Regions from separate parts of the Homo sapiens genome. Here region 2 is linked to region 1. Evidence: fine-mapped expression QTL. A gene starts in region 1. The other region holds a variant in brackets. All regions are shown on one strand. Distances are from middle to middle. Region 1 holds the start of AMN1 (antagonist of mitotic exit network 1 homolog). Region 2 overlaps ETFBKMT (electron transfer flavoprotein subunit beta lysine methyltransferase).

Evidence for each region. PIP is the estimated chance that this variant, and not a neighbour inherited with it, causes the effect.
Region 2: its variant is the best candidate, but not a certain one, in a credible set for the expression of AMN1 in whole blood (TOPMed, PIP 0.81).

What each region holds. Positions count from the first base shown.
Region 1 is chr12:31,727,558-31,730,467 of GRCh38, reverse strand. It overlaps AMN1 (antagonist of mitotic exit network 1 homolog), which reads left to right and starts at 1,447. Exons shown (of 7, transcript NM_001113402.2): 1 at 1,447-1,497. The coding sequence starts at 1,460. It overlaps AMN1-AS1 (AMN1 antisense RNA 1), which reads right to left and starts at 1,203. Exons shown (of 1, transcript NR_198987.1): 1 at 1-1,203. It overlaps LOC105369722 (a long non-coding RNA gene), which reads right to left. Exons shown (of 3, transcript XR_931497.3): 3 at 1,578-1,811. RefSeq lists enhancers at 939-1,138, 534-1,166, 1,179-1,528 and a silencer at 1,579-1,658.
Region 2 is chr12:31,666,940-31,669,849 of GRCh38, reverse strand. ETFBKMT (electron transfer flavoprotein subunit beta lysine methyltransferase) reads right to left here. Exons shown (of 4, transcript NM_001135863.2): 4 at 1-2,203. The coding sequence ends at 1,860. Among named protein-coding and RNA genes, the nearest start is that of ETFBKMT, 8.7 kb to the right of the region's middle. The variant G/T (reference allele first, on the strand shown) is at 1,320.

The DNA of each region.
Region 1 (2,910 bases):
CCCAGTTTTTTTTTTTTTTTTTTGTATTTTTAGTAGAGACGGGAATTTCACCACGTTGGCCAGGCTGGTCTCAAACTCCTGACCTCGTGATCCGCCCGCCTCGGCCTCCCAAAGTACTAGGATTACAGGTGTGAGCCACCGCGTCTGGCCTTGAGACAGTTCTTATCTCAGACATACAAGCATGAGTTTCCTTCCTTTCTGGTCTCTAGGCTCCAATTTGTCTGGGTCTGACAATAGTTACTTCTCCTGGAATCTGCAACTTTCAGAGCACTTTATGGAAAAAGTCGGCCAACCCCTGCCCTACACTCACTCTTGATCACTCTCCAGTGTAGCCATCCCAAACTATTTGCAGACCACCCTTTTCTCTCTGATCTGTATCCCACCCCCATGGGTGCTTCCATAGAACTAACCCCATCTAAGCATTTAACAGTTATTCTAATTGCCCTTTTACTTGTCTGACCCAAGTGTTCGCCACTCAATCCTCAGCACCCAGCACGATCCCTAGCCCTCGTTCAGCGCTTAATAAATCCATGTTGATTCAATGTGTAGCATCCTGAACAGGCAACAGCAGTGGGTTCCAACTTTCAAGGAGCTTAAAAAAGGAACTCAGCATACAAACAACAGACTAATCTACAAGGAAGAATGAGGGGGGTGGAGGGAGCACTAAAAAGCAGCAAGTACTCTGCAGCAGAACCAAAGATAAAATTCCACCTAAAGGTGCCCTTTCTTCAGGATCCTTCCTAATTTGAATACAGGTTCCCTTCTCCTCCATGACGAAATTCTTAGTGAGGTTACTTGTTGGTACGCAGTGTCCTCATCTGTAAAATAAGGCTAAATAATTACGATTTCACCGGATTATAATGAATATGGTTAAGTATTGAACTAAGGCCTAGAAAGCACGTAGCTCAGTGCACGCTTCCTAGAAAGTGCTCAGTAAACTCGGATCCTCTAACACGCTCCGTTTGATGTTAATGGAGTCCGTATCCGAGCGGGTCTCCAGTGTGCATCGCCAAGGGTATGGCCCAGCATCCAACGCATCCTTTTAGTAAGAGTAGCGACTTCTCAGCGCTCCCTTCGCCCCAGGAGAGTTCTCGGCTCGCGGCGTCGCGGCGGGGCTGCGCGCTGGGCTGAACTCCCAAGAAACCTCCTGCAGCTGAACCGGAGCAGACGCCCGCCAGGTGAAAGAACTACAACTCCCGTCACGTTGCATCCGAGTTTAGGGCCTCTTTATAGTTTATCACACCCAGCCTCTTCCGCGCAGCCCTCAGTGGCTCCGCCCCAAAGGGGGCTCTCTTCTTTCCTTGTGGAGTCCGAAGCGTGGCCACGCCCCGGTCACCGGAAAAATCCGTGTGACGTCACAAAAACCTACGCGTCGCGCGGTGGGCGGGAGTTGGCGGACGGTCCCTGGCTGGGTTCTGGAGGCCCTGGGACCGCGGAAGAGGCTTCAGACGCTGCAGCGATGCCTCGCCCACGGCGGGTCAGTCAGCTCCTGGATCTGTGAGTCTACCCTGTCCCGCCTCCCTTCGCGCCGCCCCAGCACCTCCTCCAAACGGCCAGGCCCTGCGCTGCTCTTCCTCCCCGCCCCTTTCCCACCCCCCCCGCCGACCTCTGAAGAGGCCCCGCGTGTGTTTCTGTCCCTGGGTTCCTGATCTGTCGTTTCCTGGCTGAGGACAGTTGTGCAAAGTGGGTCTCTTGGCGGGCTTGCCCCTCCAACACTCCGCTGCGCGATGAGCGTCCATTCCTCCGTCAGCCTTGACAGCTCGGCGCCCCGGCTGTTACTGGCAGTGGCCTCTCTCTTAGCAGCTAAAAGCCTTGGTAGAAAAAAACACAACGCTAGATGAGGTTCTCAAAAGCTTCTAGCAGAATTCCACCCCTGTAACTGGAATAAACATTGACAGACCCTGGGATAAAGGTAACAAAGTGGTTAAGACCACGGATCCCTGGCTGAGATTGCTGGGTTCAGCCCCCGGCTCTGCCATTCACCAGCCACGTGACCATGGACCGGTAACGTAACCTCTCCCTGTGCCTAGGTTCTTTATCTATAAAATTTTTGTGATAATAGCACCCATCACATGGAGTTGTCCTGAGGGATAAATTTAAAACATGTAAAACCCTTATAAGGATGCCCAGCAAATAATAAACACCACTAAGTGTTATTGTTATTATTATTTCCTACCAGAAATTGTACGGAAATGGAAGTTACAAGGGCAATTGCGTCTCTCCAGGAGCTTTCAGTCCGTTAATATTGCCATGTAAAAAATAGACATCTTAAGGATAAGGAGAACAATCTCCTTAATCTACTGAAGGCTTTCTGAAACAATGGCATCTGATATTTTACATTAAACTTGGGAGGCCGAGGTGGGAGAACTGCTTGAGCTCAGGAGTTCGAGACCAGCCTGGGCAACGTGGCGAAACCCCGCCTCTACTAAAGATACAAAAATTATCTGGGCACGGTGGTTCACGCCTGTAATCCCAGCACTTTGGGAGGCCGAGGCACTTGAGATCAGGAGAGTTGGAGACCAGCCTAGCCAGCACGGCAAAACCGCGGCATGTACTAAAAATACAAAAATTAGCCAGGAGTAGTAGTGGCGCCGGTAGTCCCAGCTACTCTGGAGGCTGAGGCAGGAGAATCGCCTCAACCCAGGAGGCAGAGGTTGCAGTGAGCTGAGATCGCGCCACTGCACGCCTAGGCTGCTAGGCGACAGAGCGAGACTGTCTCAAAAAAATAAAATAAATAACTATAATATATGTAGAATAATATCACAAGCGGGAGAGTAACAAACTTTTGAAATTTCTAATAAGGAAAAGAATAGGAGAAAGCTTTGTCAAGGGGGTTATTTTTGAACATTGGTAGTATCTGACGGTTGCAAATGGGAGGAAATGTATCGTAGAGAGTGAAATAAAAAGAGT
Region 2 (2,910 bases), 61 kb after region 1:
GAAACTCTGCCTCAAAAAAAAAAAAAAAAGAATCAAAAGCTCTAGGAATCTGTCCATAAACGTTATCTAACCAGGTGTGGCAACCCTGCAGTCACTCTGAACCTATTCTGCTTTTGGGAGCTGCCCAATTCACAGATTGTTCTTTGCTCAATTAAACTTTGTTAAATTAAAACAAACAAACTCCAGGGGGCCCACTCCTAGGGGAGACACCACACTTTCATAGTTTTACCTCCAGGATACCTACCAGGTTCTCAGGGTGAGGATCAGAGAAAAATCCCCTCTTCTGGTATGAGGATAGGGAAAGTAACCATTTTGAAATATGCCCAAGTGTTCAGTTCTCCTTAACAAAAGCCAGTTCTCAAGGGAAACTATTTTACCAGAGCCTCGTTGACCTGGGGGAAAGGAAGCACCCAACTCCAGCTGCCTCTAGCCTTCCTGTCTCACCAAAGTGACAAAAGAAAAGCTGAAAGCACTTGTGAAGGTCACAGCAGGGGCACAGGCTGACTTAACTGACTGAGACTTAATCACAGGACTATAGAACATACCTTCTCCCATACCTTATCACATCAGTTAGGCTACTGTATAATAACAGGGAATTACAGGTGAAAAAAACTGCAAGCTTCAGACTCTATATAAGAAGGAATCTCTAGGGAAACTCAAAGATAACAGAGGAGACAATAGCCAGGACACTAGAGGAAAATTTAGCCTGTAATATCTACTCTACAGCAAACAGTAGCCCTACCCAGATTTTAAAACCTCATGCTACCTTAGTTTACTTGTTTATTTATGCAATACATCATGTCTAGCTATCAACAAAAAATTACAAGGCATGCTAAAAGACAAAAAAACAGTCTGAAAAGAAAACAAGCATCAGAACCAGACTCAGTTATGGCAGACATTTTAGAATTACCAGATCATAAATTTAAAATAACTGATTAACATGCAAAGGGCTCTAATGCGAAAAGCATACAACACGCAAGAATGATGGGTGACGTAAGCAGAGATAGAAGCTATAAGAAAAAATCAAAAGGAAGTGATAGAAGTAAAAAACATCGTCAGGCTGGCGTGGTGGCTCACACCTGTAATCCTAGCACTTTGGGAGGCCAAGGCGGGTGGATCACCTGAGGTCAGGAGTTTGAGACCGGCCTGGCCAACATGGCAAAACCCCGTCTCTACTAAAAATACAAAAATTAGCCAGGCATGGTGGTGCACACCTAAAATCCCAGCTACTCTGGAGGCTGAGACAGGACAATCGCTTGATTGGGGGAGGTGGAGGCTACAGTGAGCCGAGACATGAGTCACTGCACTCCAGCCTGGAC[G/T]ACAGAGCTGAGACTCCATCTCAAAAAAAAAAAAAAGCCCAGAGTTCAAGGCTGCAGTGCCCAATGATTAAGCCTCTGAATAGCCACTGCATTCCAGCCTGGGAGCAAAGTGAGACTGTCTCTAAAAAAAGAAAAAATATATATATAGTCTTCTTCTGTTTTGTTTTGTTTGTTTAATTCAAAGTTACATCACAGTTGTCCTCGACTACAGAAACAGATCCAGCTACAATGTTTAATTCTTCTCCATTACTTAAATTAAATGCTGCCACCATTGAGTATGGCATTGTATAATCATATTCCTTCAGCGGTTAAAATAGAAAAAAAAATGCAGATAGAGATGTGTATAATTGGCATGCATAGAAATACAGAACCAGTTACATGACAAAAGTAAACAAAACTCTAAACCTTCATATTTTAAAAACAAGATTTTCCATTTAACAAGAATTACATTCATTAAACTGGAGAGTATCTCCTATAGAGAAAACTTTTAGAGTCAGATCCAAACATTACTATATTCATACTTGGAAGCACTTTGACAACTCAAGGCTGAAAACCCCACACTGTGCTTGTTGTCAGTCCACTGTTTTCCTGCCTAGTAGACTCCAAAAGTGAATATTCTACCACTTTGTGCAGGTGATGCTGAATGCTGTGTCCACTGAACTGGGGCCGCCCAGGGTCACCAATCAGTACTCGAGTTCTATAGGTCCAGAAGCACTTCTTCAGCCACTGATGAAGACTATCTGCAAGGTCTTCATCATAAAACATATCGCCAAGAACAACAAGGTCCCACTTATCTTGTTCCAAATTCAAAATGTTTTGGATTAAAATAGGAAAAGGATTCAGTCTGTTCAATTCACAATTTAGTGTAATAGCCATTCCTGCAACTTAAAAAAAAAAAAAGCACAAAATGAATTGGTATATGCTAGGCTGTTATAATTCCATGTTGATTAAATAATTTAGAAGATCTGCTAACAATATATTTTTCTTCCTTTTTGATGAAAGTTGTTTTTTAAAGTAGAGAAGTATAAAGGTTATCCCAATATAAGCTATACCACAATTTCCAAATACATGACTGGATATCCTGAAAACAAACAATTCAAAACACCTAGAAATGCTGGGACTTTTAGGAATATTTGCTGATTTCATTAACCAAAAGATTTTGTTTTTTTACTGTGGACAGGGAAACGAGACTTGGGCTTGATTGAGCATGGCAATAAATTAGAACTGAGACCCCTTGGCTGGGCGCAGTGGCTCACGCCTATAATCCCAGTACTTTGGGAGGCCGAGGCGGGTGGATCACCTGAGGTCAGGAGTTCAAGACCAGCCTGGCCAACATGGTCAAACCCTGTCTCTAATAAAAATACAAAAATTAGCTGGGCATGGTGGTGCATGCCTGTAATCCCAGCTACTCGGGAGGCTGAGGCAGGAGAATCACTTGAACCCACGAGGTGGAGGTTGCAGTGAGCCAAGACCGTGCCACTGCACTCCAGCCTGGGCAATAGAGTGAGACTCTGTATCAAAAAAAAAAAAAGAAAAAAAAAGAACTGAGACTCCTTTATAAAATAAAGGTTTTCAGCCAGGCGCGGTGGCT